Linked DNA regions of Homo sapiens. The protein of the gene in region 4 interacts with the protein of the main gene of each other region in a biochemical or structural test. Each region holds a gene or a part of one and is shown on either strand. Other genes may lie near its edges. The genes, in order: RPS6KA5, MRTFB, MYOCD and KDM3A.

What was found.
Region 1: of the proteins of KDM3A (region 4) and RPS6KA5, one has a biochemical effect on the other in vitro, tested with the Homo sapiens proteins (one study listed by IntAct).
Region 2: the proteins of KDM3A (region 4) and MRTFB form a complex in vitro, tested with the Homo sapiens proteins (one study listed by BioGRID).
Region 3: the proteins of KDM3A (region 4) and MYOCD form a complex in vitro, tested with the Homo sapiens proteins (one study listed by BioGRID).

What each region holds. Positions count from the first base shown.
Region 1 is NC_000014.9:90,847,606-90,854,641, forward strand, and holds the end of RPS6KA5 (ribosomal protein S6 kinase alpha-5), read right to left. Parts: 3' UTR 256-7,036; downstream 1-255. UniProt on the Homo sapiens protein: Serine/threonine-protein kinase that is required for the mitogen or stress-induced phosphorylation of the transcription factors CREB1 and ATF1 and for the regulation of the transcription factors RELA, STAT3 and ETV1/ER81, and that contributes to gene activation by histone phosphorylation and functions in the regulation of inflammatory genes.
Region 2 is NC_000016.10:14,066,837-14,074,319, reverse strand, and holds the start of MRTFB (myocardin-related transcription factor B), read right to left. Parts: upstream 3,002-7,483; 5' UTR 2,955-3,001; exon of another isoform or gene 2,914-2,954; intron 814-2,913; exon of another isoform or gene 739-813; intron 1-738. UniProt on the Homo sapiens protein: Acts as a transcriptional coactivator of serum response factor (SRF). Required for skeletal myogenic differentiation.
Region 3 is NC_000017.11:12,766,878-12,769,473, reverse strand, and holds the end of MYOCD (myocardin), read right to left. Parts: 3' UTR 525-2,596; downstream 1-524. UniProt on the Homo sapiens protein: Smooth muscle cells (SM) and cardiac muscle cells-specific transcriptional factor which uses the canonical single or multiple CArG boxes DNA sequence. Acts as a cofactor of serum response factor (SRF) with the potential to modulate SRF-target genes.
Region 4 is NC_000002.12:86,436,336-86,444,370, forward strand, and holds the start of KDM3A (lysine-specific demethylase 3A), read left to right. Parts: upstream 1-5,035; 5' UTR 5,036-5,109; intron 5,110-5,125; exon of another isoform or gene 5,126-5,223; intron 5,224-5,334; exon of another isoform or gene 5,335-5,503; intron 5,504-5,682; 5' UTR 5,683-5,712; coding exon 5,713-5,898; intron 5,899-8,035. UniProt on the Homo sapiens protein: Histone demethylase that specifically demethylates 'Lys-9' of histone H3, thereby playing a central role in histone code.

The DNA.
Region 1 (7,036 bases), on a different chromosome or scaffold from region 4:
TAAATGGGCGAGTGGCTTCCTTCTCCTTTTAAGCCGTCCTTCAGGGCAGTTCAGAAAACGCTGCATTCAGTTATCCACACACGGTTTTCATTCAAGCATAAGTTAATGTGAGTCTTCTAAGATGTAAATTCACTGATACAGATTGTTGTGCTTCTTTAACACTCTCACTTATTTCCAAGATCCAACATACCTACCCCCACGCCCCGAAAAGCAAACAAACAAACAAACAAACAAACCACAAGTCCAAGTCAGATATCAGGCATTTGTACATTGACAGGTTTATTCTTAAAGCTTGAACAAATACATCTTTACACACACACAAGTTGGTAAAAAGTAAGCCCTTACTGCTTTGTTAAAAATAAAACCCATACATAAAGCTTTCCGGTCAAATTCCCGAAACATGAAAACATCACATTTCTACAATACATCTGCTTTTTTGATTCATGTGTGTTTTCAACACAGCTCAACAACTCATTCCGATCTACCCAAACAAAGAGAAAACTAACTTCCAGACCATGAAGGAAAAAAAAATACATGCCTCTTATAACTGTTAAAGACAAGTAGCTATAGAATTCTGAAAATTCTCAATAAATAGTTACTAGTATAAAAATGCTTAACTCCATATAGCTCACCTTTAATCAAAGGCAGTACCAGTTATCGCTATAATAAAGCACTCAAAGAACATCGAAATAACTTCATATCTATAGCAACGAAGGGAACATGGAACATTAGCCCTCCTAAACAATTCCAGAAGAGGGAAGTTCATTATGAATTAATACTTGGAAGATTCTAGCCCAGCTAGAATAGATTTTAAAAAACTACAATAAAGTATATAAATATGAAATTCAGAAAAGCAGATAAAGAAAAGCTGTCACTTAATAACACAGGTGGCAGCAACCAAAAATATCATTCCCTCTGGGGGGAATTAATGCTAGATTAATGTGAATAAAATAAAGGAAAATGACATAAAATGAAGATACAAAATAAAATTGATCCTTGATGTGAGAATAACTGTATTCCTTGCATGTTCAGAATGTCCTTATGTTCTTCTAGAGAGACTTAGAAAAAAAAAGCCATGCAAATAAAAATCTCATTACATGCCAGCTGAGTGACTTGCAAAGGTTTGCCCCAGAAGGGCTTTTTAAAGAGGCTAAAGACATTCTAATTGCCATCCAAATTGATGTTTACACCAAAATAAGAAGAAATCATCTACTCCCAAAGCAAATCCTATCTATGGACTTCATAGAATCCCTTATACTTTGTAACATTTTCTGCTTCCTTCTTAAAAACCTAGGGGGAAGGTGAGCTCCTGGGACATAAATACGCAGGGAAAGAACCTCATTAAGCCAGGCAGAGGATGGCAAAGATCAACAAAAGAAAAGAGTCCACCGCACTCCAGCCTGGGCAACAGAGCAAGGCCGCATCTCTAAAAAGTAATAATAAATAAAAGGAAAAAGATGCAAGCAAATTTCTGCAAATAGAAGCGTTCACCCCACAGATGAGAAAAGGGGACTCAGTCGTAACCAGGAGAGCCCGCGCAGGCACCTTGGTGGTCTGAATCTAATAGATGCCACTCTCAAATTCTGAGGAGGATGAATTAGCTACTGCTTATCAGGCAACTAACAGAGCCGGCAACAGAAAGGTTACAAGGCCACCTTCGCAACCAGCCCTTTGAAACTGGAAACAAAGTTTTGGCCAGAGATGAACACGCACCCATATGTCTGAAGACAAAAGTTTTTTAAGAGGGCACGGACTCCGGATCTTTTATCTTATGAATAGATCCACTTTGGTTGGTAATTCTTCTGCCTGACAGGCTGCCTTGGGCTACTACACAGCTGATATGAGTGGACAGCAAAGAGCTGTGTAAACCTGTCTAAAACAGTGCACTTGGTGGCTACATACGGCTAATCGCTGCTAGTGTTTAGAGTCTGTGGCTGACTCATCTCAGTACGGTGACCTGGACTGCAGCAAGATCGGGCACAGCTTCCCTTAGGTGGGAGAAAGAAGGAATACCATGGAGGTGTGTGTGGATGTGTACGCACACAGGAGAGAGTCGGGGCTGGTGGGGAGGCAGAGAGAGAGAAAGGAAAGGCCAAAAGGAAAGTTAAAGGGATTTACTTTATTGATGCTAATGTAGGGGTCAGCTAACAGTAACAAGCTACTACTATTATTTCCCAAAGATGGAACAAAGGGTGACGTTACCCGTTGATGCTAGATGATGTCCTCAAACCTGACGTAGTAAAGGAAAATCAACACATTGTCTCACAGCTTTCTTACCTGGCAGCTGGCACCACATTAGAATCTCCATGGCCGTGCATGGTGGCTCATGCCTGTAATCCCATCACTTTGGGAGGCCCAGGTGGCAGGATCGCTTGAGCCCAGCCTGGGCAACACTGTGAGACCCCACCTATATTTAAAACAAAGGAATCCCCAGTCTCTTTGAAGTATGTGCCTTAGAAGGAAAGTTTCAGGACACTCTGGCACTTTTTTTCTAGTCTGGGAAGGGATCTGTGGGCTTTCTACAAGGGAGCAAACAACCTCAATTCTTTCCTCTGGGATCCCGTCAGCTTCTCCTTCCCCAGAGGTCCTGACATTGCTTACCAGCCATTGACCTGAAATGAACTGCTTCAACGTGTTCTGAAGGACCTTTAAATAAGAGATGGTAATAAATCCAGCTGCTACAGAATGACAAGAAGAACAGTCATGATTGTAGTCAATTTTAAAAATAGACATCCTTTCCCTTCTTGCTCCCTCCCATAAATACTAAATGGAAGAAGACACAAATAGAAAGAGAAGAAAGTATTTTTAATCTATTAAGAAAATGAAGAAAACAACCTAATCAATGTGGGAAACCATACAAAAAAAAAAAAAAAAAACAGAAAATATTACATAACCAGGCCTTTTAAATAAGGATGGAATTCAATAAAAAACTTAAAATGCTTACATCTTCTGAAATAACCCATGATTAGCTCCAAGTTTTAGAAAGTTCTTGAACAAAAGGTACACATCAAAGTAGTGAGGTAGCAGCCCCCACTTTCCCAAAAAGTTTTCAGGAAAAGGCTGCACAAGCACCTGTTGGTGAGGTCACCAGGAAGGAATCTGCTTCCGGCAGGAAATTGCACTGGGTGAGCTCTAAGGCTCCTAAACTCTAAGATTCTCGTATGTGCTGAAAACACTGCTATGACGACAGTTTGATCTGATCATCTATGCATTCCTCTGAAATAAATGAAGTCAATTCAAATAAGACATTCTACAAATTAGCCAAGCACAATGATATATTTTAAACCCACACTCAGACCGACAGTGTACACCATAAATTTGTACTAGAACAATACCCATAAATATAAAAAATCTACTTAATTTTATACTTTGTTAGTTCCTACTTCAAAATGCTAGTCAATATTCACTACAGAGAAGTGGGTAAAGATACTTTTATTTTATTTTTTTTTTGAGACAGAGTCTCACTCTGCCCCCCAGGCTGGAGTGCAGTGGCGTGATCTCGGCTCACTGCAAGCTCCGCCTCCCGGGTTCATGCCATTCTCCTGCCTCAGCCTCGTGAGTAGCTGGGACTACAGGCGCTCATCACCATGCCTGGCTAATTTTTTTGTACTTTTAGTAGAGACGGGGTTTCACCGTGTTAGCCAGGATGGTCTTGATCTCCTGACCTCGTGATCCACCCTCCTCAGCCTCCCAAAGTGCTGGGATTACAGGAGTGAGCCACCGCACCTGGCCTGGTAAAGATACTTTTAAAATTAAATTGCTATATAACAGAAAGTCTTCATTATTAAATATCATTCTACCCATCTTTGGAATCAGTGTACCTTATGGATTTTTTTAATCCTCTTTAATCGATCCCTCAGTATGCTGGTGAGACAGGGAGGCACAGGTTAACCCCATTTTACAGATGAAGAAATGGAGGCAAAGGGAGGCTGAGTGATTTGCTCAGGGTCACCAAGTCTGCAGCTAAGCTGGAAATAAAGTACCAAACTGCCTTTTCCACAAAATCCTCAGTAATACTCAGAGAGAGTGTCATATCTAGTACATTTTACTCTTCACTTAAAACCAAGGGTTCAGGGAAAAAGGAAGGAATTAAGTGAGCTCTTTGGGTAACCTTGTTTTCTTCTAGAGGATGAAGGTATTTCTCTTTAGATACTGGTAGATATCATTAGTAAAAACTGAATGGTTTTTACTAATAAAGCTGGGCACAGGCCAAGGCAGACATGAATGACAGGCTTTATCTTTCATGGCTCAGTTCTCACAAGAGGCTCACTGTACAAGGTCCAACTTTGCATCTAACTTCAACACACAGCCTTCCCAATCATCTCACAGCGTTTATTTGAACAAAAAAGACAGAATTTAATATATTCGTTGATCTAAAGAAATAAACAGTATTATTCAGTAATAGTCCTAGTATATAAAAACGTGGCATTCATCTACAGCAAAGACAAATTATCGGTATCTTTTCTTTAAAAAATCACTTTTTTTTTTTTTTTTTTTTTTTTAAGACGGAGTCTCGCTCTGTCGCCCAGGCTGGAGTGCAGTGGTGTGGTGCGATCTTGGCTCACTGCAAGTTCTGCTTCCCGGGTTCACGCCATTCTCCTGCCTCAGCCTCCCAAGTACCTGGGACTACAGGTGCCCACCACCATGCCTGGCTAATTTTTTGTATTTTTATTAGAGACGGGGTTTCACCATGTTAGCCAGGATGGTCTCGACCTCGTGATCTGCCCGCCTCGGCCTCCCAACACTTTTGTTTAAAAAATGGAAATTTCTTCTAAAATGGTTTTTCAAAGCTATGGCTCATAAGGAAATAACTAATTGTCAATGTCTAAATACCTTAAAAAGAAGCATATATGTAAGTATTAGTCCAATCATGTGAAACCCAATAAAACAAGATTTGATTTGAAAACATTTTCAATGAAAAGTGCAAAGGTTAAGGGAAAAACAGCATCTGATATGTGCACCCTATTGTAAAGAATTGGTATTTAATGCTGCAATGGAGTACTAACCACTAATTTCCAGTTTGCCACATGAAAGGCATACTTCCAACTTTTATTTTATCCACATTAAAAGTATTTGTCTTTAAACAAAAATAAATTCCAGTTAGCCTTTGCTGGGAGAAACTTTTTTTTTTTTTTTTTTTTTGAGACAGAGTCTTGCTCTGTCGCCCAGGCTGGAGTGCAGTGGCGCGATCTCGGCTCACTACAAGCTCCGCCTCCCGGGTTCATGCCATTCTCCTGTCTCAGCCTCCCCAGTAGCTGGGACTACAGGCGCCTGCCACCACGCCCGGCTAATTTTTGTTGTATTTTTAGTAGAGACAGGGTTTCACCATGTTAGCCAGGATGGTCTCAATCTCCTGACCTTGTGATCCGCCCGCCTCGGCCTCCCAAAGTGCTGGGATTACAGGCATGAACCACCGTGCCCGGCCTGGGAGAAACATTTTTAAGTGTGCAAAGCAGTCACAATGAAAAAAGCCCCGGATGTTAGCAAAAAGAGTGAATGTGTTTGCCGTTCTATAAATAAAATGAGTTCACTATAAAAAAAATTGTTATGATGCTTTACTTAATTTGCCCATTTCTCAACATAGGCTTTGAAAAATTCCTCTAAATGAAACAACTTTATAAGGGATGAAGATGTCATAATGATATTTTCCACTGTAGAAACTTCTTAGGTTATCACTCAAAAAACAAAACAAAAGCCAAAACCTAGCAGAAACAAATGACTAATCAAACTAAAATTTCAAAGAGTAGATTCATCAAACTAAGATCTCCCATTAAGACATCAACAATGAAGTGGCTAATAAAAAAGTAAGCATCACATTTATGATGTCTAGATAAAAGTCAACCAAATAAATAAGATGCATCCCTTAAGTAACAACAATAAAAAAAAAACCCAAAAACAAAACAAAGCATCAATGGATGTTTTAAATACCTAAAATTTAGGTTGGGCACAGTGGCTCACGCCTGTAATCCCAGCACTTTGGGAGGCCGAGGCAGGCAGATCATCAGGGCAGGAGTTCGAGACCAGCCTGACCAACATGGTGAAACCCCATCTCTACTAAAAATACAAAAAAAAAAAAAAAAACCCTAAAATTTAACACTATGAAGTCTCTATATTAAATCAAAATCGTAACCATCTTGAAAGCTAAATTAAAATAATCCTGGAGCTCTGGAATGTTATTCCCTCTTAAAGCTGTATTAGGTCTTTAGGAAATCAATGTGGTGTTACTAGTTTATGTGTATCCCATTATTCATTTAAAAAGAAACGAACACAAATATTTCACACCCTTTTTCTTGATTAATCATTTGTACCAGAGAAAACTCTGTATATACCAGTACAGGTGGGGGATTACTGGCAGGGCAGATAGTCGATTTAAGGAGTGAGGGGCAGTCTTATTAATTTGGTATTGTAAGCCCCCAATACATGTGTGTATACACATACATAAACACACACCTATGTAATTTTCACAAGACCAAACTATTAAAGTACCTAGAAAATAGAATATTTTTTCCTCTAAACTAAGATATCTGTTTATATAGACTATTGATGCAAACTAATTTTAAGTAATTATAGTGCAAGGAGCCTGATGTATGAAGATTTGACATTGTAATTTATAATTCCTAAGTAATTATTAAATGATTAATGTTTAATCATTAATCATTTAATAATAAATGGCTACCAGATTTAGAACAAAACTTACTGTAGCCATTATAATCTGCTAACGTTTGAAAAACTTAACATGAAATCAGCACAGAAACTAAGTTTTTAGAAATAGCCTACATAATGAAGATTATGTATTATATAGTCACAAATTTTTATTTTAGATTTCACAATGTACACTTGTCTCAAGTAAGTCTATTTAACTAGAATTTTTAAAGACTTGCGATTTTGCTAAATGTATCATCATTAGAAAAAGTTTTCTGGATGTGTATATGAGCAGGGTTTGATTATTCTGACATCAGAAAGCCAACACTAGATTCCACAGCAAGGACACTGGAATTTAAAAATCTGGAATACTTTAACAGTAGACTTTACTCAA
Region 2 (7,483 bases), on a different chromosome or scaffold from region 4:
AGTAATGACCTCTTTTACCCTGGAACAAGATACTGCTTGCTCAAATTAATATAAATTCATTACTCTCAATTTGGATAAATTTCCATCTCCAAAGTGTTCAATGTCTCTAACTCTAGATAATTTAAAGTATAGCCTTCTGTTTTGACAGCAGTCATTACCTACATGTCTGTTTCCATAGCACCTTTCAAACGTAACACGCAACTAATAATAAACACCTTACATCAAGAAGCAACTCGTCTATTCAACAAAAAAAAGCCAAATAAACTATTATTAAAAGAAGAGTTAAATGTATAATGTTACAATGTAGGTAACATTGTAACATATATAAATGTTATACGTAGGTAACATATAAATGGTCTGAGCTGAACTTTCTTAACTCGATTTGCATTTTCCCCTATGCAGCAAGACTAGCAAAGTTTGAAATGAAAAGACAACTGCTAACAAATCACACCATGAGGACTACTGGCATATGTGATTACAGGTAATTTTAAGTTTTACCTTTGAATACATCTGCATTTTCCAAATTCTCTAATATAGATATTAGTAAGCAGAAGAAGCTATTTAAAGGGTGATTACACTAGTTTAGATTATACTTAACTAAGACTTATTTCTACACATTATTGTTGTTGCTTCCCAACTCCATTCTAACCTCAATCTGCTACTTGATTCAAGTGTTTAGTTGTCAACATTTCCATTAAACACAGCCAATCTTTCAGACAGAGGGACACAGGTACTAACCTGACCTCCCATCTGAGATTCTAGAATAATCAATGAAAGCGCCACTAACCAAAAGCATGCTTTTTGTACGTCAGACACTTCTGAAAGAAAGAAAAAACAAAACAGGACAAAACTCTCAGCAAAAACTGTCTGTTAAATTTCCTTTTATAATTCCTATTATAATTGACTAGATAACACTGATGTTTGGAGTGGTTCTCCAAGGAGCTGGAACTGCCCCCAAGGAACATTTTTAGTTATCAAAGAGACTGGGGGACACCGCTGGCATTTAGGGTTTGGGGGGCCTGGATCTAAAAGACTTCACACAACACATAGGTGGGACAGATCTGTATAATGAAGATTCGCCTGGTACGAGAGTCTTTCAAATGAACGGGCAGATTAAGCCCACTATAAACTGGCATTACTTTACAATATTTAAAAGTTTTTATAAGAAATTGCAGGGAAACTCCAGTAATGTAGGAGAAAGTAGCAAGGGAAGCTTAAATAGAGTAAGGGAAAACTGTCTAAACATTAGCGATCGTTTCCTCACACCACACACCGTTAACATACAATTGTAGTATCAGAATACTGAGCATATACAAACAAGTGAGATACTGATATTGAACCAAAAATTTTCAACCTTGTTAATATTTTATTAATTATTACCAATGGTAATTGTTAGGAAGCCAGTATTGTCCCTTCGAGTGTGTGACACAAAAAATTCTACAATATAGTTTAAAAATATGGATCCATGGAGGGCTTGTGCTAATATTTACGTATTTATTGAGACAGTCTGTTATTTGTCTTGCCATGTTATCCCTAGTTCAATCTAGGTTGTTTCTCTCTTTAATTCGCAAGAAACAGGTTATGCCAACCTAGGTGTTTTTCCCAACCTCCGTCTGTATCTCTGCTCTTTCCCTGAAGTAGCGGCCTCACTCTGTAGCCCAGGCTGGAGGGCAGTGGTGCAATCACAGCTCACTGCAGCCTTTAACTCCTGGGCTCAAGAGATCCCCTCACCTCAGCCTCCCAAGCAGCTGAGACTACAGGTGTGCGCCACCACACCACGCTAATTTTTTCTTTTTTTGTACAGGTGGGATCTCGCTATATTGCCCAGGCTTGCTCTTGTTTGAAATAGCTCCTCCTAATTTTTTTTAACCAATACAAATGTACTCATTAGAAGCTGGCACAAGCACCCCAGTATATACTGTCTTCCAGCACAAGAGTATGTCCTAGATGTGAATGGTACAGCAACATCTGTCATATACTGTTCTCTATTTCGCCCTTACGCTTCAATCAAACCATCATACTGCTTTTCAAGGATGTGTGTAGGGAGGTCACATTGTTTATGAATTTCATTTCAGGGTAGTAAAGAGGGCTTTATACATGTTTGCTGCAAAGGGGAAGAAGGGACCTTGATTCTGACGAGGTTGAGAACCACTGTTCCCAAGAGTGGAATCGCGTGCTGAAACAAAAATCGAACTTTTAGAGAAGAGTTTCCTTTGCCTAAGGCAAGCCCTGGGCTCCAATATTCCACTTCATTGGGCCTGACACCCCACTACCAGCACACGCCCGCTGCTCTCAGCCCACCTCTGCTTCCAAGCAGGGCCAAACAATGGTTCTTGACCACTTGGGGATCGGGGACCCTTTTAGGAACGAGACAAAAGCCCTGGAAAAACTCTCTCCCAAGAAACCCATATACCAAGCTGCATCCAACTTCAGGGCGCTCCCAGACACCCCCTCTGAAGCCTGGTCGGGACCCCAGGAGAAAAGGGCTGAGGGGAGTGGGAGGTGGGAAGAGGAAGGGGGCGCAGGGGTCCCGGTCCCCTCCCACCGCCTCCTCGCAGTGTGGCTCTGGCCCGGGCGCTCCACCTCTCTGTGCAGCCCCGGCGTGCAAGCGCGCAACTTAAGTGCCCGGCACACAGCAGAGGCTCCATAAACGCCGCTGCCACTGTCAGCAGGGCCAACTCTGCAGTCGAGATGGACACTGAGGCGGCCCCGGGGTCGCGCCCGGGCGCGAGGACCGGTTGAAGGAGGCACCGGCCCGCGGCCCCGGCCGCCCCGCCCCGCGCGAGTCCCGGGGACGGTGCGGACCAAACGGCGCCGCAGCTGCTGCGGGGACGAACAGGGATGGCTGCCTGGGACGCGGGATGTTCACCAGGCCCGCTCCCCCACCCAGCCCTCGGTCTCGGCCGCTCTCACCCGGCCTCAGCCCCCAACGGCCGCCACCGCCCGCCGCTCACCTCCCCGGCCGCCGCCGCCGCCGCTCCCGCCGCCGCCGCGCGATCTCGCGAGACTTCGCTCCCCTCGGCACTCCCCCTCCTCCCCGCGGCGCGCGCGGACCCCAGGCTAGAAGCGGCTCGGCGCGCTCCCCGGACGCTGCCCACCCCGCCTCAAGGGTCAAGCCCGGCCTCTCTCGCTGCTCGCCCCCGACTCCGTCCCTGCGTGCACTCCGCCCACTCCCGTGACTGGGAAGGGTTAAAGCCCAGGTGCGAGGCGGCCGCCTCCTTCTCACCTGGCCGGCCGGGTGCGCGTGCGCATGCGCATGTCCGGGGCTCGGCCCTGAGCCTCTGCAAAGGCTTGGACGGTGGCGACAAAGGTGACCGCTGCCACCCGTCCTGAGTGCTCGCTGCGCGCCGAGCACTTAACAGCCCCCTTCGGTCCTCACACTGCCCTCCAAAGTGGGTATTACCAGCCTCCCCATTCTAGAGAGAGGAAAAATGGAGGCCTGGCAAGGAAAGTACAGTAATGGCTCCATGTCACACAGCCAGGAATTGGCTGAGCCAGTGTTGGGATCTGGGGTTGTCTGATGCCCAGCCCAAAACCCATTTCTGCACCTCAGTGACAGCCCCCAGGCCCTGTCCCTCTTTCCGTTCAAGGCTCAAGGCGCTGCCTCTCAGCCGCAGTCTTCATTCTCTCCCAACATTCACCAAGGTGAGAGGAGGAGCTCCTGGGAAGTCATTTGCTACAATCTGTTTTCAATGGAGCTGGCGACAGTAAAGTGCTTCTCCCTCACTTTACAAACTTCCCAAGGCCTGTGAAGCCCCTGTGCCACTCCCTGTGCAGCTCTGAAGACTGTGTGACTATTTTTATGCGGTTCTGTCTCCTCCTTAGACTGGTGGCGTTTTGCTGGTAGAGAGCATGATGGAATGGCACACAGGACAGAGAATCAGAATGTACATGATGTTAGCACACAGAAAAGTGTGACTTCTTCCCAGGAGTAAGTCTTAATGAAATAATAATTGTTTGTAAAGAGGAAGGGCTAACATTTATTGCGGGCATATCAAGGTCATACCAATCTTCTTGCAATCCTGGAGGTGGAGAAAGTAGCCTGTTTCCATTGTGAAATAGGATTTGAACCTGGGTCTGAGTCCGGAGCCCAGCACTACCTTGTAGGTAGGTCCTGTTCTGCAAGCAAGCGAGCATGAGCTAGCTCATCTGGGCCGGCTGCTGTAAGATCAGGAGCCCTGGAGGTTCTAGGTAGCCTTCCACCTGCAACAGCGTCTGCATGGGCTTACCCAGCCCACCTGATAATCACATCAATGTCAGCAAGTGCTGGCCTGCCCATGCTCCAAACCTGTCCACTCTCCCCGGAACCAATTGCTGTGTACAGGCCAGAGCATGTGGGTGCCCTTGCATGTTTCAACCTCACTCAACTCACCAGATGGAGGAAGTGGGTGAAGAAGGAAAATCACACCTGCTGGGCAGCTACAAAGTGCTGAGCCCTGCTCCAGGTGCTGTCTATTTATTAATTTATTTAGCCCTCCCAACAACCCTGTATTAGGGTTCTCCAGAGAAACACAGCTACTAGGTTCTAGATAGATGTAGGCTGGGCAAGGTTGCTCATTCCTGTAATCCCAGCACCTTAGGAGGTCCAGTCAGGAGGATCACTTGAGCCTAGGAGTTTTAGACCAGCCTGGGTAACACAGTGAGACCCCGTCTCTACAAAAAATAAAAAGAATTGGGCATGGTGGCACATGCCTGGAGTTCCAGTTACTCTGGAGGCTGATGTGAGAGGATCTCTTGAGCCCAGGAGTCGAGGCTGCAGTGAGCTCTGACTGTGCCACTGCCCTCCAGTCTGGACAACAGAGTGAGACCCTGTCTCTAAAAAAGAAAAAACTATATAGATTCATAAGAGGGGATGTATGATGGCAGCTGAGAAGTCCTACGATGTGCCATCTCCAAACTGGAAAGCCAGGGAAACTGGTGACATAGCTCAGTCGCAGTTGTGGCCCGAGAACCAGGGAATCTGATGGTGTAACTCTCAGTTCGAGGCTACAGGCCTGAGAACTTGGGAGCCACTGGAGCGAGTCCTAGAGTCCAAAGCTGGAGAACCTGGGCTGGGCGCAGTGGCTCATGCCTGTAATCCCAGCACTTTGGGAGGCTGACGCAGGTGGATCACCTGAGGTCAGGAGTTCAAGACCAGCCTGGCCAACATGGTGAAACCCCGTTCTCTACTACAAATACAAAAATTAGCCAGGTGTGGTGATGGGTGCCTGTAATCCCAGCTACTGGGGAGGCTGAGGCAGGAGAATCGCTTGAACCTGGGAAGAGGAGGTTGCACTGAGCTGAGATTGCATTATTGAACTCCAGCCTGGGCATCAAGTGAGACTGTCTCAAAAAAAAAAAAAAAAAAAAAAAAAAAGCTGGAGAATCTGGAGTTCTGGTGTCGAGGGACAGGAGAAGATAGTGTCCTGGCTCCGGAAGAGAAAGAGAGAATTTGTCTTTCTTCTACTGTTCTATCCAGGCCCTCAACTGATGGCGATGAAGGCAGATCTTCCTTACTCAGTCACTGATTCAAACACCAATCTCTTCTGGCAACACCCACACAGACACACCCAGAAGTAATGCTCTACCAGCCATCTGGGTATCCTTTAATCCAGCCAAACGGATGCCTAAAATCAACCGTCACAAATCCCCTGTGGAAGTTATGGTTGTCCCCATTTTACAGATGAGAAAACCAGGAACATAAGAGGTGAGAGGACATGCCCAACAACACACACAGCAACACGCAACGACACACACAACACGCAACGACACACAACAACACGCAACAACACACAGTTGGCAAGTGGTTGGTTCCACCCCAGATCAGCCTGTTTCCAAATGCACAAACTTTGCCTTTCGTGACCAACAAGGCTATTCCCTACCTCAAAAGCCTTTATCTTTATGAAACAGAAAATCCCCAAATCCCCTGAGGTCAGGACTCCAGTGTAAGATGCTGTTATGTTCTCCTCCGGGTGGCCAGTGCCTCAGTGTTCTCATCTAACATAAGAACATGAGTAGGGAAAATTAACCAACTTAATATATGTGAAGCATACGGAAAAGTGCCTTACAAGATTAAGCACTCAGTAAATCAAAGCTGTTATTACCATGGGTGGATTCTTTGTGATATTTTATCCTTTCCTCATTGCCCAGTAGAAATAGCAATTCAAGTAGGAGGATGGGCTCATATACAGAAATAAAATTAGTTTTTAGGCCAGCTGTGGTGGCTCATGCCTGTAATCCCAGCAGTTTGGGAGGCCGAGGTGAGAGGATCACCTGGGGACAGAAGTTCGACACCAGCCTGGCCAACATGTTGAATCCCCATCTCTACTAAAAATACAAAAATTACCCAGGCATGGTGGCGGGCGGCTGTAGTCTCAGCTACTTGGGATGCTGAGGCACAAGAATCTCTTGAACCCAGGAGGTGGAGGTTGCAGTGAGCTGAGATTACACCACTGCACTCCAGCCTGGGTGACAGAGCAAGACTCTGTCTCAAAAATAATAAAAATAAAATTAGTTTTTAATTATATTTCTGAATGAAATAAATAATTCTGAGAACAATAAATATTTTCAAAATGGGCAGAATTACTCCAGTACTTCCCCCTAGTCATGAAAGGATACCAGCTCTCCTGAAGCAATCTCTTCCCAGTTTCCTGAGGGAGGGGCAGTCTGCTTTATAAAGGACTCTGCTTTTATAGGAAAAGCCACCCAAATATTTTTAAAGATATGACTTGGAAGTCACTTCATAGGCAAAAATAAAAGCGAAGAAAAAATTGAGCTGAAACTTAAGAGAATTTTGATGTGGTTAAGGGTTAACACCAGGCTGGGCACCATGGCTCACACCTATAATCCCAGCACTTTGGGAGGCCAAGGCGTGCAGATCACTTGAGGTCAGGAGTTCAAGACCAGCCTGGCCAACATGGTGAAACCCTGTCTCTACTAAAATTACAAAAATTAGTCAGGTGTGGTGGCGCATGCCTATAATCCCAGCTTCTCTGGAGGTTGAGGCATAAGAATCACTTGAACCCAGGAGGCAGAGGCTGGCAGTGAGCAGAGATCACACCACTGCACTCCAGCCTGGGCAACAGAGGGAGACCCTGTCTCAAAAAAAAAAAAAAAAAAAGAGGGTTAACACCAAAGTGACATCATGATTTGAGGGAACGTTTTATAGGAACTGAAGTTGCCACTAACCTCAGGCCTTGCTGTGCCAAATTTAGGTTTCCATCCTGACACAAGATGTGCCATACTTTCCCATCAATGTGAGCGGCTCCCTGTGGACCTGTGGAAGTGATCCTCATGGGGAAGGGGTGGGCATAACAAGACCACGGGGCGTTATTCTTTGAAAACAACAAACAAACAAAATGGGTAATTCTGGCCAGGCATGGTGGCCCACTCCTGTAATCCCAGCACTTTGGGAGACTAAGGAGAGAGGATTGAATGAGGCCAGGAGTTTGAGACCAGCCTGGGCAACATAATGATACCCTGTCTCTACAAAAAATTAAACATT
Region 3 (2,596 bases), on a different chromosome or scaffold from region 4:
AATAATAGGCAGGAATAAATTTAAGAGGAAAAAGTAGATTAAAAACTAGGTCTTATTCAGGAAGTCTATACATATAGGCCTCTTGATACCCAGTTTATCCTACATTATTATTCAACTTGCTCAGTTACTAAACTGATGAAAACATTGAATTCGCTAAGTTGTATATGTATGTATGTATCTTAATGGGCATATACATAGCTTGAGAATCTGTTTTGCGAAAGTTCTGATTGTATTAGTATGATCCATAGTAAGTATCAGTTCAGACAGTTTGTGCAGTGCTTAAGATCCGGGCTTTGGAGGCAGGCAAATCACAGTCTGACTCTTGGCTCTGCCATTTCTCAGTTGTGTAACTTTAGGCAATTTACGTATCCTCTAAGCCTGGTTTCTTTATTTGCAAAAATGAGGATAATAATGGTACTACTTCATGGGCCCATTGTGGGAATAAAAGGAAATAACACATATAAATAGTACATAGCATAAGGCCTGGGTACATCACACAGCCACGAAAAAAAAAAAGTTTTACATTTCTTTTTAAAATAAACATTTTATTTAAAAATATATGCATTTTTTTTTTTTTTTAAAAAAGAACACATGCCAACTTTGGTATTTTAGCCACTGCTTTTTGTCTCTTCCCAATAACCCACATTTCTTTCTGATTATGCTCAATTGAGCCAAAGAGACCAACGTGAAAACACCACTCCACAAGGTCCCACAGAGAACCTATGCTTGCTCTTTTTTTCTTTACAAAGTGTCTCTTTGTGCTTCACTGAGGGAGGATTTTAAGCACCCAGCAATACATTGTCCTCCGTTCTTACTGCAGGGCCATTGGAAAGGAACTCTGGGGAGCAGTGTGGGTTCCTTTCCTTTGGAAAACATTAAAAAAGCTTCCAGCATCCCCATCATTATACTCCCCTTTTCCATGAACACACAGGAGCTATGAAACCACTTCTAGGAAATGCATGCTCCAGGGTTCACGATGGGAGCAGATGGTTAAAATAAGCACAGGAGACCTTCTGGCGTTGGTTTGTCTTAATCCACAGGGAAAATCGCTGATTCCCAGAATCAAAAGGGAACTTACTCACATGTTATTGCATTCAATGAGTCCTGTGATAATTTCCCTGGCAGATGACAACAAAATTCTTCCCAGATCTCATCCTGTCTTGAAATCGTCTCCCCATGGGTAGGCTCAATCTAGCCAGGGTTTCTCTATAAACCTGGACTCTAGAATCAAACCCAGCTCCTTAACGCAACTGACCAGATCTTGGCACTACAGGATTGTCTTGTTCCAGGACCTGGGCTCTGTGTGTCTATCAGTATCATCTGTCTAATAAAGCACTGGCAATTTTGACCCTGAACCAACCTACAAATTTATATTGGATTTATGAGAAAACCAAGAACCCAGACTCTTCACTACAGGTTTTCTCATATCTGATATTTGATTGCAAACTGTGTACCAGCAATTTTGGGAACTTCCTTCTGTGAGGAAGGCAGCTGAGGGCTGTGGGGGGAAATCAAATTGCCTTCATATTCTTAGATGATTTTCTTTTAAGGGCCAGAGGCTCACCAGTAAGTGTCCCTTTTGTCTATAGAGCTGCTACGATAAGTAGGGATAGGACACAAAAATGCTTCCTCCACCCTTTCCTTATTTTCAAGGGGCTTCTGTATCTGGCAATCAACACAAATCTTCAAACTCTCGTGGATGTTTTAAATGATGGGAGATATTAAAAGATCTCCAAGTGATAGACTACTGGTGTTTGTCCACAAAGAAAAAGACAAGAATTTTGAAGTGAGAGATAGCTTTTAGCTAAAAAGTGATCCCCACCTCCACCCCCTCTTGGAAAAATGAAGACCCCTTTTTTTTTTTCATCGTAGCTGAAAGGTTTCTAGTTTGAGGACTGGGAGATTCTTAGTGTTCTTGCATGTGCAAATACAACTCCCTGGTCATTCAAATCTGAACAATCTGTGCTGAATCAATTCAGTATTGTTTATCTGAAGATTTGTGTGCTCTGCCCATGGTGGGCATTAAATATTAGCCACTGGATGAGTAAATTTGTTGTGGGAGTTTTCAGCCAGACCAGAATCTGTTTCTAAAAGAGCTGATTGACTTTAAAATAAATAACATTTGGAAAGGACTATTTTGAATGCTTGGGATAGGTTTTATTGATGCTTTTTTTTCAGGTTGGACATAAATGTTTTTGAATGGCAAAAGGCTGACAGTTCTCAGACCCTCTATTATTCAGGTGAAGATTGTCTTGGTTTCCTCAATTACTGGTACAATTATTGTAGTGCTAAGAATGACTTCTCCTTAAAAAAATTCTGATTTACTTCTCATAATGTGACAGCTGAACTGAGAAGTTCATAGATCAGAAAGTTTGGCCCTTTTTTCCTTCCCTCCTTTCTTTCCTCTCTTCTTTCCTTCCTTCCCTTCTCCCTCCTTTTCTCTTTACCCCCCTACCCATCTCCTATCTTCCTTCCTCGCTCCCTCCCTCTTCTTCCTCCCTCCCTCCCTCTCTTCCTCCCTCTTTCTCCCTTAGAATAGAATATGTGTTGTCTCAATAACGTTGATAGAAGCAGGGTCACTACTAATAAGCACTGG
Region 4 (8,035 bases):
CTGGAATATATACCCTGAAGCTTGGATAATTTTTACTAACCAGTGGAAGTTATTTCTGGCAATACCCAGTGGCTAAAATATATTTGTTGGCAGTTTCAATATCCTGCTGCTCAGTCCTCCATCTGTCTTCACCTCAGTGTATCCTTTGACCTTACTGCATGGTCTTCCAAGTTGAAACTCTTTTTGGCTTGCTTCCAGAATGTACCTCTCACCTGGTTCTCCTGCTGCTTCTAAGAGATCTCTTGGTCTTTTCAGTGCCCACTGCTGGTCCCTACATGAATGCCCTCCTCACCCTCCTTGGGGTCTGACATCCATGTCAAATCACTCTCCTACACACTCTCCTCCCCCTCCTCAGGCTCTGTTACTCATGCCAGGCTTTCTTCTCATGTAAACAGTCTCTTCACTCTGTTTGGGCTCCAACATACCACACTAGGCTGCCCCCATTCATGGATGCCCTCCTCACCTCACTTGGACTCTAGATAACCCAGGCTAGGTTAACCTTTTGTGTGTCTACCCTTCTCACCCCACTTGGGCTCTGACTGTCTATGCCCGGCTATTACTCCTTACTCTTTAGAGCTCTAACATCCCATGGCTGACAGCCTCTCCTTATTAACACCTATCTTGCTCTGCCCCTCCTAATGGCCTCAAGACTGAAATGTTTAGAAAGAGGAAAGGAAAGAGAAAAAAGTAGAAGAGAGGAGGGAATTTTAAAATATTTTATTGGATTTTAAAATATGTAGCATTTTGATCTACCTGGAACTTATTTTCGTGAATGTTGGTGTAGGAATCTTGGTTATATATACATTATATACTTTTTTTTTTTGAGACAGAGTCTTGCTTCGTCATCCAGGCTGGAGTGCAGTGGCGTGATCTCAGCTCACTGCAACCTCTGCTTCCTGGGTTTAAGGTTCAAGTGATTCTTCTGTCTCAGCCTCCCGAGTAGCTGGGATTGTGGATGTGCACCACAACAGCCAGCTAATTTTTACAGTAGCGATGAGGTCTCACCATGTTGGCCAGGCTGGTCTCAAACTCCTGACCTGAAGTGATCTGCCACCTCAGCTTCCCAAAATGCTGGGATTACAGGCATAAGTCACTGCGCCCGGCTTATATATACATTTTTAATGGATAATCAATAGACCTCAAAGCATGTATTGCATAGTTTATTCTTTACACCCACTAGAAATATGTCGATCACAAACTAATTTTTAATATACACTGGGTCTGTTTCTTTGTTCTCTTCATTACTTATATATTTATGTCTTGATGTTTTTATTTGTTGTTTTGTTAGAGGAGAAATGACATATTTATCAGATCATATCAAGAGACAGAATTTTTCATCTTCTTTATACATGTCAGCAAAGTCTAATTTTCTTCATATAGGTTGTGTTCATTTCATGTATTAATTTTTAGGGATTACATGTTTTATTATCATTAATGGTTTTTATTTTTCTACTGTATGTTCTAATTGATGCTTGCTAAGGAATAGGAATTCTTTTGATTTTCGTTTGTTGATCTTTTATTGCATTATCTTTTTGATTCTTGTTTTAATTCTAATAATTTGTCACTGATGCTTTTGATTTATCTACAAATGTTTTGGGCTTTTTCTTCCATTCCAATGTTTACATTGTATTATTTTTCTTGTCTTATTACATTAGCAATTAACCTCTATTGTAACTTGAATAGTAATGACAGCATTGGGCATCCTTATCTTGCTCCTGACTTTATTGGGAATTTTTCTAAAATTTCACAATTAAGTACAATGTTTAAGTATATTTCTGGTAGATATCCTTTATAGAGTTATAAAATTTTCTTTTCTTGATAGTTTGCTAAGAGTTTTTATAATGAATGAAAATGAAGTATATAAAATTTTTGGTGTATCTATTGAGATAATCATATGTATTTTCTCCTTTAATTTGTTAATGTAGCAGATTCCATTAATGAGAGTTAAAAATTAAATTTTAAAAGTAACATGTGAGTACATTTACCTTATAAAATGAGAGAATTACAGGGAGTGGGGAGATTGGGTAGATGTTGGTCAAAGGACACAAAATTTCAGTTAGACAGGAGGAATAAGTTCAAATGATCTAATGTACATCATGGTGACTACAGTTAATGACAATATATTGTATATTTGAAAATTGCTAAGAGTGGATTTTAAGTGTTCTCACCACACAAAAAAAGATGAGTATGTGAGGGAATGCATATGTAAAATAATTTGATATAGCCATTCCACAATGTATATCTATACCAAAACATCATATTGTACACCATATAGTTTTACCTGTCAATTAAAAATAAGGTGATAAAAATGTAAATACAAAAAAAGTGTATTTATAAAAAATTAGAATTACAAATAATATGTGTTGTCTTTGACTAATACCCCTAATTCTAGTGTGCACCCCCTAATACCAGTAACCATTACTGTAAGTTTTAATAACCATATTTAACAGAACATATATACTGTTGTTTTTGTATGTGTATTTTGAAATAGTACCAAATGCAAATTTCTTTTTCATTCATAATGTATTTTGGTAACTATTTTTATTGGAACATCTAGCTGCTTTGACTCCTTTACAAATCCTCTACAACTTTCCAATATATGCATTACATTCCATTTATTGTTAATAATTTTATTTATTCCTTCTCCAACTGGAGTACACTTAGGTTATTTGCAGATGTTTTTTCGTTCATATGTGTGTGGGTGTTTTTCTGTGGTACGTAACTTATATTCCTAGGTTTTTAGAAAGTTTAAAAACATTTTTTAAAAATTATGGGTGGTATTGAATATAAGTGTACACTTATAATCTTCTTAGTTTTCTATGTAATTTAAAAATACTCTTAAGATCACAAGTGTTCAATGTGACTGCATGCTCTATTTAGCCCTAAGGTGAATATACGATTTTTCTTTTTTAACCTGTCATGGTGAATTTTAGTAATTTTCTAATCTTGAAGTATCTTTGCATTCATATAACACTAATTAATCATATCAATTACCTAAAAAAAATGCTGCTGGATTTAATTTGCTGGTATTTTATAAAAGAATTTCCCATCTATGTTCCTAAGTATAATTGAACCATAGTTTTTCTTTCTTATACTCGCCCAGTTCAGAATTTGTGAAACGGTTTTATAACTTTTATAAAATGCATTGGATATCTTTCCATCTTTTCTAAGCTCTGAAATAATGAATTCAACATAGAAAGTATATGTTCCTTCAGGTTCAATAGAATTTTTCCCTTGAGTTGTTTTTCAAATTAATATTTAATTACATAATCTAAGTTCTCCATATCTTCCCTTATATTTTACATTTGAGTTGCATATTTCTGAGATATTTATGTCTTCTACTCTGAAAACAAATTGTCAAATTTGTAAAATTTCTCATCGTTCATAGCGTCACCTTAGGATAGGCCATGTTTTTAGATTCATAACAGTTCAGGAGACCATACTGTCTTCATGGACTTTATCTTTAATATAAAATCCTTTCTCTTTTGATACTTTTAATTGTATTAATATTGCTATACTGCTTTCATTTGGCTACCATTTGATTAAATATTTTAGCCCAGTATTTTCAAGCTTCCTGTTTTGTAAGCATTTGCTTATGGTCAATTTATAGCTGGATTGTCCTTTTATTCCCAACTGTCTTTTAAAACTTGTGAGTGAAATTAACCCATTTACATTTATTGTAAATACTGATGTTTGGACTTTTCACATGAAAAACATTTTTACCATATGTTCTGGTTTCTTTTGCTTATCTCGTTCCCATTTCTGCCTTCTTTCAGCTGGATAGGTTTTTTCTTCTCATTTAGCAGCCCCCTTCCTTTAAATGGTCTACAGATTATAAATCCAATTTAATTCTTGTTACTAACTTTAAAAACTTAAAATCACATTCAGAATATGTATATTGAAAATCAACATCCAGAGTTGATTTGCATCTATAATCCCTTATATGTTTCCAAACATTCTCTGATTATACGTTTCCACGCTTGTAAAATGGGAGGCATGAGTTCTTCTTAAGGATTAAATGTGATGTAATGTCAAACACTAGCCTTTATGAACATATCTTCAATTTCTTCATTCCATTTCTTTTTCATTCAATCAAAATACTTCAGGTCCAGAGCACACAATCACCTCTAAACTCCTTTGTCCTTCAAAGTCACCTTCTCTTTCATCTCTTCCATCATTCATTATGGCCTTCAACTACTTTAAATTTCTTTGTAAGTATCTGAATACCTTCTCAATCCCACTTTGGAGAAAAAAAAATCTCATTATACATTGTATTTAAAGGTCTCTTTTGCTCTAAATTTAATGAACGTCATTATCCAGTAACTCCACGCCTTTCTTCATTTATCCTTCAAAATGGCGGACTTTAGACGTTCCACGATCAGTACCACGTGCGCCTGCGCCTCCCGCAGCCATTTCGCCCAGCAGCCTAAGCTCGGCGAGGCGCCTGCGCACGAGCCTCCAGAGCACTATCGCTCCTCCCTCTAGCTGAGTACGCCTGAAACCGCACGTTCTCTTCCCTGCCCTCCCCCGCTAACCCTGCACCGCCCTCACCCTTTCCTGTGAGATTCTTCCGCCAAGTGGAAGGCTCATCTTCGGTCGACAGCCTACGCGGTTGAAGAACAATCCAGTAGGCACTTATAGCTCAGGGTCTCGCCATTCAGTCTTATCTATGCGCCACAGCAATTTTCCTCCGGGCCCCAAAGTTGATAACCGATTTCGCGGGACTTTTTTTTTGCATACTGTGAGGCAACAAATGGAAAGAATAGGCCTATGGCGGAGGGATCACTCGCTTATTCTCTGTGTACTTTAACCTAATGGGGGTCGCCCGGGAGTCGGAAGGGGGAGGGGAAAGGGAGGAGGCAGCCAAGGAATTGTTTTTTTCTCTGGCCCCGCCCTCGCCCGGGGGGCCAATGGTGATGATCTGTTTCCCCCGGAGCCTCGCCCAGCTCCTGTGTTTCAGCCAATGAGCGGCGGAAGCGGCTCCGAGGGGGGCGGGTCCGGGAGGCTGTGCGTGTCTTGTGAGAGCTCTTGAACCAAGTCAGCGCTGGAGTCGGCTAGGCGGCTGGAAACGGCGGCTGCCGCCGGTGACTCAGGGAGGCGGGAGGCGGGGTAAGAGCGCCGCGGCCTCGGCTGCGGGGAGAGGGGAGAGAAAGGTGAAAGCGCCGAGCGCGCGGCCCCGTCGCCCGTTGGCAGCGGCGCAGGCCCGGGAGACGGGCGCCCGGGGTTCGGGGCCGGGGAGCTGGGCGCCGGGGCGGGGCGGCGGGGCAAGTGCGGAATCGCGGGCTCGCCCACCCTCCCCCGTGGGGCCGCCCGGGGCGGGGACCCAGCCGCCCGGGACCGGCTCTCTGCACCAGGGGCCTTTTCTTTTCGGGGCTGGGGGCTGAGCACTTTCAAATCCACTCGAGCCGCAGATAATTTTTCCCTCACTCCCTCTGCGGTTGCGTTTGAGCTGTTAGAAAAGCCAAACTTGGGAGAGCGAGGGTCACGCGGCGCTGGGGCCCGGGTGTGTGGCGGGGGAGGGCGGCGGGGGGCGGGAGGGCGCAGGAGGGGGGCTCGGTGCGGGTCCGCCCGGGGCCGCGTCCTCGCGCGGGTTCGGCGCCCTCCGCCCGCCCTCCCTGCTGTCTCCGCCCGGCCCCCTCCCACCGGCCGCCCCCGTCGCATTTTGTTTTTGTGTTTTTGCAGGGAGGAGCTCTTCCTGCAGGCGTGGAAACCATGGTGCTCACGCTCGGAGAAAGTTGGCCGGTATTGGTGGGGAGGAGGTTTCTCAGTCTGTCCGCAGCCGACGGCAGCGATGGCAGCCACGACAGCTGGGACGTGGAGCGCGTCGCCGAGTGGCCCTGGCTCTCCGGGACCATTCGAGCTGTTTCCCACACCGACGTTACCAAGAAGGATCTGAAGGTACAGGCGGCTCCGGGCCTCTGCCACCGGACGTTTCGCAGTTACCGTGGTAACGCGACCATCGGTTCCCTCCTTCCGTTTTCTGAAAACGGAGACCAGAAAGTTGGCATATGATCTGAAGGTGCAGGAAGCTAGATCTTGAAAGTCTTTGGAATGGTTGTATAGAGCCGAGTTGTGTTTGGCCCACAGCTCCTGGCTGCCTGGCTTTAATAATGGGCTTAGGGTTGTTCAGACACGCTTCATTAATGCCGGTGCTGTGTCCCACCAGGACTGTCTCATCTTTACTGCAGAGGAGGAGGAGTATTTTTGTTAGCGTTAGGTAGGGCCTGTAAGTGACGTTTGGAGTCATTAAGAATTGAAGGTTAGTGCTTGGAAGTACTTTCAGCTGGTTTTGTTTGTTTGTTCCTGTTAATTTATTCACTCAACTTTTAAAAAAACTTTCAGACTTGTTAAAAATGAAGTGAGTGTAGAGGGAGGAGCTTAAGTTCTGTTTGGCGTATTAGGATGGGTGTTTGTCCGTATATGGTGGGTCAGGGCAGGAGTGGGTTCCTGGTTGTCTGTGATGAGCCGGTGGGTGGGTGTGGGATATGACCATATATGGAGGGATGGGGTGGAGCTGTCCCATATATGGCATATTGGAGGACTGGCTTAGAAATACTGCACTTGGACGCATGAGGGGAGGGAGAGAATTGGGAACAAGTGCGGCCAGTGATTTTTTTTTAAATCATTATGACACTCAGAACCTTTTTCTGTTAGATCTTTTCAAAGACAGATGAATTCTGATTGTGCTCCCTAATAGAAGTATTGATGTGAAAGGATTGTCTGGGAACAAGCAGTGAGGAAGCCATTGTACCAACAAAGACTCCTTTGTGCGAAAATAACTGAAAAAAGGTTCCTAACAAAGACTCCAAAGTGGTGATAACTTGAAGGAAGCTTGTCAGAACAGAAGATATTTCCACCCTGCCTAGTAGATGTGTTTCAGAATCTTCACTTGGCCATCATCTTTGCTTTTTCTTAAACTATGTTCAAATAAAGGCAGCAAGTTTTAGCATTGGCAGTTGATTATATGTTGATTTCTGAAACACTGTTCATTTGAACACTTTCAGGGTGACAGTGTATGCCCAAACTGGTATTTATCTGCAAAGAGTTGTAGGAAAGGGGTATGCTGTTAGGCATGTTTTAAAGCTTCAGTGTTGTGCCTTGTCTCTTGTTGAAAAGGAGGAGTGACCGAAGAGCATTTAACCATGTGGCAAGCACTTCACAACTATGATCTCGTTTAATCCTTACAGCAGTTCTTGGGGGTAGGTACTAATATTGCCCCCATTTTATGGATGAAACTACTGTGCCTGAGGGACGTTAAGCATCTTGCCAAGGACACATACGTAGGAATTGACATAGCCTGTATTCTGTCAAACCCAGGAAGTTTTACTCCAGAAGCTGCCCTCTTAACCATCAGGCCAGTGATCAAGAGCTATGCCACAGCAGAGCTCCTGTCATAGGCTGTGAGGTTTGGTTTTTTCCTGCATTCGGCTCATTCTCCTGCCAAATCAGGTTTTGATGTTTATAGAGATAATATATTGTGGTGCAAGAATGGCCAACCTTTTTGCTTTGGGCTTATAACCTTTCTGTAAGCTGGGCTTTGTGTACTAGATTTCAGTCGTGCTTGTTGTGGTTTATTTCGCCTGCCAAATAAAATTTTCTCTAGTGCATTTGTTTTTATGTGATTTGAATGGAAACAAGATTTTATTTAAACTTTCCAGTCTTTAGTTCTTTGGCAGATGTTGAGAGACTAGGCGTTCCCTTCCCTTCTGTAGCAGCAATTGAGGACCTGTTGGGTTAGGCAGGCAATCTAGGAGGAACTTCACATGTATATATTTTTTAAATCTCCTCCCTCCGCCCCCATCCTTTGAGGAGGTGGTGATATCTTCATTTTCAGAATGAGGAAATAGATTTAGGAAAAGGAATCTTGTCCAGATTTGCATAATTAGCTGCGGAGGGAGGCTGCGAATCCAGATTGGGCCCAGTGTCTTCTCCACTGCACTTTGGTGCCTAACCTGAAGACAACTGGGAATTCATGTCAAAAACAATTTTGGCTAGGTTGGATTTTTGCCTTACTTGTACACATCACAACTCAACC